Linked DNA regions of Homo sapiens. The protein of the gene in region 1 purifies or fractionates together with the protein of each later gene. This does not show direct contact. Each region holds a gene or a part of one and is shown on either strand. Other genes may lie near its edges.

Evidence for each region.
Region 2: the proteins of AGFG2 (region 1) and STARD7 purify together in Homo sapiens (affinity purification with mass spectrometry; 2 studies listed by BioGRID and IntAct, with this or other methods). This does not show direct contact.

Annotation. Positions count from the first base shown.
Region 1 is NC_000007.14:100,563,130-100,567,036, reverse strand, and holds part of AGFG2 (arf-GAP domain and FG repeat-containing protein 2), read right to left. Parts: intron 3,204-3,907; coding exon 3,075-3,203; intron 2,820-3,074; coding exon 2,734-2,819; intron 2,106-2,733; coding exon 2,046-2,105; 3' UTR 1-2,045.
Region 2 is NC_000002.12:96,207,341-96,211,247, forward strand, and holds the start of STARD7 (stAR-related lipid transfer protein 7, mitochondrial isoform 1 precursor), read right to left. Parts: upstream 1,488-3,907; 5' UTR 1,095-1,487; coding exon 805-1,094; intron 1-804. UniProt on the Homo sapiens protein: May play a protective role in mucosal tissues by preventing exaggerated allergic responses.

The DNA.
Region 1 (3,907 bases):
GGAGACAGCACAGGGTGACAGAAGCAGGAGAAAGCCCTTCGGTTTAGCCTCAGTTCCAAACCTCGGCGCTCCTGGCATTAAGGGAAGGGTGATGGAAGCTGGGGGGAAATAACAGAAAGGCTCCTCCCCCTAATACACCATAACAGATTCCAGCTTCCCTCCCTCCGGCTCTAAGCAGAAAGGAAAGAACTGGTAAGAGAATTAGGTAGAGGGACACAGAGATAATCTAGGGTGGCGAAGAGGGGAGAAAGAGAAGAGATGGAACATGCAAAGGCCAGGAGCGAAGCGGGAGACCACCCAGGAGACAGAAGGAGGGCAGAGGCTGGGAGAAGAACAGGAACAGACAGGATGGGGTCCTGATTGTTGGAAAAGACAGGGAGGCCAATCCCAGCCTTGCAAATAGCAGCAGCTAGAGGTTATTTCCAGAAAAATCTGCAAAGTAAATACACTGATCACCCAACTCCCATATCTCTTTGCTGCTCTCTGTGGAAGACTCAGACAAACCCCAAGAATGAATGGCCACGGGGCCAGGGCAATGGTGGAAAGGGAGGGGCCTCACCTGGCCTTGGGCCAAACAGCAAGGTGGCCTCTGCCCAGCCAGGTGAGGTGTTTGCCACCCACCCCCTGACCAGGTCTGTCTTGTCACCACACAAATAGCCCAGACACCACAGCTGGATGTTGTCACAACATCCCCAGGTGGAAAGAGCCTGGGGCAGAGAATGTTCCAGACCCAGGAGGGGTCTACTTCCAGCACCACATTGGCACCAACCTCCTTTGCCCACCCTGGCCCCAGTGGGCATTCCCCTCACATCCAACAAACTCCAGTCCCCGGCAGTGGTGGCTCCTCTCCCGCCACGCTTCTTCTCATTGCTAATGCGGGACTCTTGTTCAGACAGGGACGGGCTCTGCCCTGTCTCTGGCCAATGGCAGCATTATCACTGGCCCAGGCAGTCCAGCCCAGCAGAGCCAGGTCAAGGATCAGTCATGTTGACTGACCTGCAACCCCTCAAAGTGGCCTGAAGCAAAACCACAGGCGCCGTTTTCTCTTTCGTTCAAATGCAGTTCTTTTCCAACATTGCCTGCAATGAGCTTTGGTGCAGAGATTTGGGGACAGGGAGGCACATGGAGAAAAAAAAAAAAAAAAAAAGACCAGGCAATTGCACAAAGCCTTTCCCTGGAAAACCCAGGCTCTGGGGATGGTGGGGGTCAGGACACATGGCTGCCCCCCCTCCAGCCCTGGAGCTCCGGCTTTGATGGTCGAGGCACAGATGGGGATTCATCCCATTCCCCACATACGAGAGCAGTCTGGGAGCGGGAGATCGGCTGGGTGTGTGTATATATGTATGTATGTGCATATAGATAGATCTATTTATATATAATAGGCTATATTAGAAAATCCTCTCTATGTATAAATATAAAACACTGGTATCCAAACATGACACCAACAGCTAACTAAAGTGCTTGACAGGAGCCGGGCCCGGGTAAGCTCGATGGTAAACCGCTCATCCTGGGCGCTGGGGAAGCAAAACAATGGGGGACCCCTTCAGCAGGGGGTGCTGCAGGAGGAAAGTGTGTGCTGGCCAAGCTGGGCCACCAAGAGCACTTGGGCCACCTGGGCCTTCTGGGTCTCAGGACTGTCTGGTCACTGCCCCATCAACACTGTGCCTCATCTTTCCCCTACCTTCCCCACTGCGCTCCCGTCCATGAGGAGCACAGCGCTGGCGAGCTAGGCCCAGGGAAGAGCTGTTCCACAGGGGACTGATCATTTGAAAAAAATCCCTCCCCCTCAACCATCACTCCTCCAGGTCAGGCCCTGCCCGCACTCCTCCTGGGCTTCCTGCCTGGGTGGGGGTGGGACGAGGGAGGGGAGAGAGGCTTTGTGGAATCTGAGGGCAGCCACCTTTCACCTGTAGGCCCCAAGCAAAGCATTAGCACCTCCACCATCCCCAAGGCCCATAGAAATGCCCACAGGCAAGTGGTCACCAGAGCTCTAGGGAGCAGAGGGGCCCCAGAAGGCAGGGAAGAGGCCCCCCAAAAACACAGTGCTACAAGAAGGGGTTGGTGGTTGGAGGTTTGGAGGCGAATGGGCTTGATGAGGGTCCAGTCTGGAAAGAAAGAACAATACATTTTCCAGTTAGGGGAGAGGAACTGGAAGCTTAGAAGAAAGGCAGCCAGGAGTCCTTTCTCCTGAAAAATCGCTATGCTGAGGGCAGTGGGAAAGTGAGGGAGAAAAGGCCAGGCACGGTAGCTCATGCCTGTAATCCCAGCCCTTTGGCAGGCCAAGGTGGGCTGATCACCTGAGGTCAGGAGTTCAAGACCAGCCTGGCCAACACGGGAAAACCCTATCTCTACTAAAAATACAAAAATTAGCCATGTGCGGTGGTGCACACCTGTAGTCCCTGCTACTTGGGAGGCTGAGGCAGGAGAATTGCTTGAACTCAGGAGGTAGAGGTTGCGGTGAGCTGAGATTGGGCCTGGGAGACAGAGTGAGGCTGTCTCAAAAAAAAAAAAAAAAGGAAAGTGAGGGAGAAGGGAGCCAAGGGCAGGGCTGGAACAGCATGGGAGATGCCAGTGCCCAGAAGAGCTGAGGCCCAAGCTCAGCCCTGGCTTGGACAACGCAGACCTTCACGAGGAAGGGGCACAGGGGCCACCTCACATCAGCCTCTTCTGGAAGGATTGTCCCAGAGGGAAAGCCCACGAGCCCTACCACAGCACCCCTGCTGGCACACTCACCATGAAGGGGTTGGTGGAGATCCCAGCTGGCTGGCTCAGTGGCCTCTGCCCCAACTTGGCTGATCCTAAGTCCCCGAAGGAAGAGCCTAGGGGGCGAGAGCAGTCACTCAGCTGACACCAGCCTGCCTTCCTGCAGGCGGACAGCAAGGGGGGCCCTCCTAAACTGGGGGAGTAAGGGAACAGAGCAGTGGAAGTACCCGGGCGGGTCTGGTGCTTCCCTGGTCCCCCCTGCTGGTCAGAAAGGGCACTGCATGGGCTCTGATGAGGTCGGAGGAACAACTAACTGATCTCTATGCAGAGATGGGATGGGGTGAAAGGGTTTGTCCATCTACAGCTCTTACCATTCTGCTGCTGAACAAGCGGGGTCTGCGGGGGGAACAGCGGTGCTGGGAAGGAGCTGGCAAAGGCCCCAGTGGGTGGCACTGCCTGGGGGAAGCCAGGCCCAGCACTGCTCATCCCAAAGCCGGGCCCTATGGAGTGAAAGACGGGAGGCTCAGGTGAACTTCTGGAAGGTGGGCTGGAGAACTGTTTTTCCTAAGTCCCTCCAAGATGGGAAAATGGGATATAGTTTTTTCCTGACATGAGGAACGAGGGACCCAGCCATGGAACTCTTCTGCTTCTCACACCACCAAACAACCCTGCCCTCTCCCTGCCCGGGGGTACGTGGCAGGGAGGGCATGGTAGTTCCAGGCACGGGCGCGGTGCAGGACTGGGCTAGCCTCCCACTAAACTGCAAAAACAGCACAAACTTCTAACGCTGTCTGTGCTTCAGTTCTCATCTCTAAAATGGGGACAGTCCGTCTCATAGGGCTACTGTGAAGATCAAATCAGGGCCACGAAGCCCTCAGCACTGGGCCCACCACACAGCTCTTCTGTGTTTGCTCTTATTCCTCTCTCCCCAGCCTCAAGGCTTCAGCCAGCATGAGTCTGAGGGGAGAGCAGCAGAGGCTGGGGAGGGCCAGGGTGAGAGAAGACAACAGGCCTGGAGTTGATGGAAGCAGGGAACAGCGTGAGTGTTTCAGGTGGCTTAAGCTTCGGGACACAGAAGGGACTGGGGCTGGGTGCCCAAAGGGACACTGCTGAGGGCTGGAGACAGGAGAATCGCTGCCACTGTCAGTCAACTCTAAAACAGTCTTCAGTGCGGTCTCCGGTAAGTAGCCACCTGTGTGCTTCT
Region 2 (3,907 bases), on another chromosome or scaffold:
AAGTACTTTCTGTGCAGGGAGGGCACAGTTTAAGAATATCTGTTGCAAAGAAAATACAGACACAAGGTAAACCAAAAACCAAAGCAAAGTTTCCCCATGACATTACCTGGAAACTACAGTCTCAGAACTACAGATTAACAAACGTAATCAATGGTACTGGGCTTTTCACAGTTTTGATGACGACAGCATGACTTCAGAGTCTAATGGGACACTATTCCCAAAGTTCTAGTTAACGTCGCAAAAATCTGACCTAATTCTTACAGGTTCAAATGTCTGGGCTGCTGGTTTGTGTAACCTGGACAAAATCGCTTCCAGGCTCTCAATTTTGCCACGAGTCACGATGACAGAGGGCTCTCCTGGCTTTTCTCACAGGCCTGAGTCCCATCTGGATTGAAGTCATTTTGCAAATAGCAGCCCACCACCCTTAGGCCAAATTTAAAATTTGTTTTGAATTTGCACCTTTCTGGTTGTGTTAAAGATTACAGATTACATGAACAAGGGCCTCCATGCCTTCGCTATCTAATTGATTTCTACAGTGTTGTTTCTTTACTGTCTTGCTCGCCCCACTCAAAGTCTCCCTCCTACACACCAGCCTACACACTTTCAGTTCTATTTTATAACCCGACAAATGCAAATTGACACACAGAGACAAATAACAACGCGGTTTGCTGAAGCAGGTTCAATCGACTGTATTGCCAATTAAAAGACCACCGGGTAAACAAGGGCCAACGACCACAGGGCAGGCCCCAGGGTTCACAAGCCCCCCCACCCCACGGCCCAGAAAGAGCTCGCCGCAGCGCCCACCTCTGCAACTCCTCCTCCTGGATCCTCTCCTCGTCCCAAACGAAGACGCCGGCTAACGCCGCCATCAAGGCAGAGGCATGGCCAGGACGGCCGTGCAGCCGGCGCCAGAGGCGGCCGAGGAGAACGCGGCGTGAGCTCTCGGAGTAGAGGCGGCCGTAGAGCTGCGCGATCTGCTGCGCGCGCCGCACGCGCAGGCCCGTGACGAAGCGGCACTGATTGGCCAGAAGCGCCAGCAGGCCCCCGCCCCGCGTCCCCGCCAGCCAGGCGGCCAGCAGCCTCCGCGGGAGCATGCCGCCTCCCGCAGGGCCCGCCGCGAGCTTCCGGGGCCCAAGGAACCAGTCCGGAGGGGCGCAGGCGGTGGTCGCAGCGTCCCCCTAAATGGCCGGCCACGAACCCGTCTCACGGTCCCGCGGCCAGGAGCCGCCGCTCATCTGTCTCTGCAGCCACCGCTGAGGAAGAGTCTCCTCTGAGGGGAGAGTCGGTCATGGCAGCAGACGCCGGGATGGCTCCGCGACTGCTACACCAGGCACTCCTGGGCCCGGGCAGCAGACCAGTCAGCCCTGTGGCTCCTCGGCGACCTCCAGCGGGCGCCCGGGGCCGGGATGCAGGGCGCGCGGACAGAAACGAGACAGACAGCTCAGGCCCAGCAGCACGCAAGCTCCCGCGCCTTCCGCGACTGCCACACGCGCGGCGCGCGCGCACCCTACTTTTTCTCCGCCACCTGGGCCGTGATTGGGCGCGACCTGGGCTCCTGGGTGCTCATTGGCGCCGTGAAGTGCTCGTCACCGCCCCCTCCTGCCCCTTCATGCATGCGCGGAGGCCGCCTGCTAGCAAGGTAGGTGGCTCGGCGGCGAGAGCCGTCAAGGGCGCATTGGAGAGTGACCCTCGGACCCGGCTGCCGCCGTCGCCGCCATCTTCCGGCCGTCCCAGCCCCGCCCCGCGGAGAAACCTGGCCAGGTTCCTGTTAGAATCCTGCCAGGTGTTAACTTGTTTTAAGAGGCCGGCACGCTGGCCCCCTTCTTTATTAGAGTGCAGGGTGGGGGCGGGGCTCCGCATGTCTCTGCGGGGGCTGGGGGCTCCCAGTGATAACCGCCATTGCAGAATTAAAACTGAGACAGTGAAAGAGATCTGACCTAACCAATTCCATCTTGCTTCTGTCCTTGTTCATTCCTGAGCTTAGGTGAACTAATTTTGGGAGGAACTTAGTTTATAGTTTAAAATAAAGAGGATAACAGCCCTTTCCCAAAACAAATCTTCTTATCTGGGAACTAGACTGCCTTTGTAGGACTAATAAGTTAGCCATAAGATTGGAAATTATGGTTTAGGAGTCATGCAGCTGGAGGCTACGATATTGTGATCCCCCTAAACTGCTCTTAAGATCAGTGCTTGAGATATTTTGCTGACCCCGCACTGGTTGGATCCTGGCACCACCCAGATGGATAAACTGGCTCATCTGACCTTGTGGCCCCCACCCAGGAACCAACTCAGTGCAAGAGGACAGCTTCAATTCCCTATTATTTCATCTCGACCCAACCAGTCAACACTCTGGACTCACTGGCCTTCCCCCACCCACCAAATTATCCTTAAACACTCTGATCCCGGAATGCTAAGGGAGACTGATTGAGTAATGTTGAAACAAACTCCAGTCTCATAGTGGGCTCTGCGTGAATTACTCTTTATTGCAGTTCCCCTGTCTTGATAAATCGGCTCTGTCTAGGCAGTGGGCAAGGTGAACCCATTGTACGGTTACAAATTTGGGGGTTCGTCTGGGATACCCCTTGTGGCTACCTGTCCATGGTTCGGTAGCCCCACCTCTGGTGACAGATCCAGAGGCCAGCCTAAGCGGCCACATAGTTCTCTTGGACTAGGGGCTAACTCTGGCACCGTCTCTGCCAGTGGGGCACTGCTAGCCCAATATGCATGGACTTAATCGCAATGGAGAAATAGTCCTGGGGAGACATCCCATAACTGTAGCCCTGTCACAGGGTATCTGTAGCTCCATAGCGGGGCGCTGTAGCCAGGTCATGGAGTGTCTGTAGCTATAGCCCCATCATGGGGTGGCAGGTTGCTGAGTATCCTAGGTGCTGCCAGTGCCTCCTTCCTTCTCCGGACTGATTCTGTAGCCACATGGTGGGTGTCTGTAGCTCCACCATGGGGTGTCTGTCTCAGTTTGGCTCCTGGGGCATCCCAGTTGGCTGTCCCTAACTAGGAAGAGTCTTGGTTCGGGAGACTTCTCAATCAGGAATATTTCAGGGAGATTTGTCAGATGGAGAATAGGAGGATAGTTTGGAAGGGGTACTCTTGGAGTTCTTGGTTAGGGACCTTAATTTGGAAGGCCTTCTGTCTGTCTTGTCTTCGTGTGTGTGTTTGTATATATGGAGGGGATCTCTGAAGGAATTGCTGATGAAAATCCAGCAGGCCTAACTTGGAGAACACTCCTTATTTATCTAGTCACATTCAGTGAGCCCTGAAAGAAGTTTAACAGGCCTGATTCAGGGTGACTGCTCAGAGACCACCCATTGAATTCACGATTCAATGACCCACCGTGCCTGGCCTTAAAAGGATTTTTTCTTAGAAAAAAGAGCTCTAGGCCGGGCATGGTGGCTCACACTTTTAATCCCAGCACTTTGGGAGGCCAAGGCGGGCGGATCACGAGGTCAGAAGATCCAGACCATCCTGGCTAACACGGTGAAACCTCGTCTCTACTAAAAATACAAAAAATTAGCCGGGCGTGGTAGTGGGCACCTGTAATCCTAGCTACTCGGGAGGCTGAGGCAGGAGAATGGCGTGAACCCGGGAGGTGGAGCTTGCAGCAGTGAGCCGAGATCGCGCCACTACACTCCACCCTGGGCGACAGAGCGAGACTCCGTCTCAAAAAAAAAAAAAACAAAGTTGACTTATAGAGCCAATAAGCCAAAAAATTGACTTATAGAGCCCCTTGGGAAATCTGGCCTCATACTATGTCAACACAGTCCCTGTACGAGGTTCCTGACCTGTGGTAAGTAAAGAATGTCACTTTCTAACAGGCTCAGGAGACCTAAGTTATCTTGACACCTCAAGAGGAGAGGAATTTACCCAACTCATAGGTATTCGAGGGTACAAA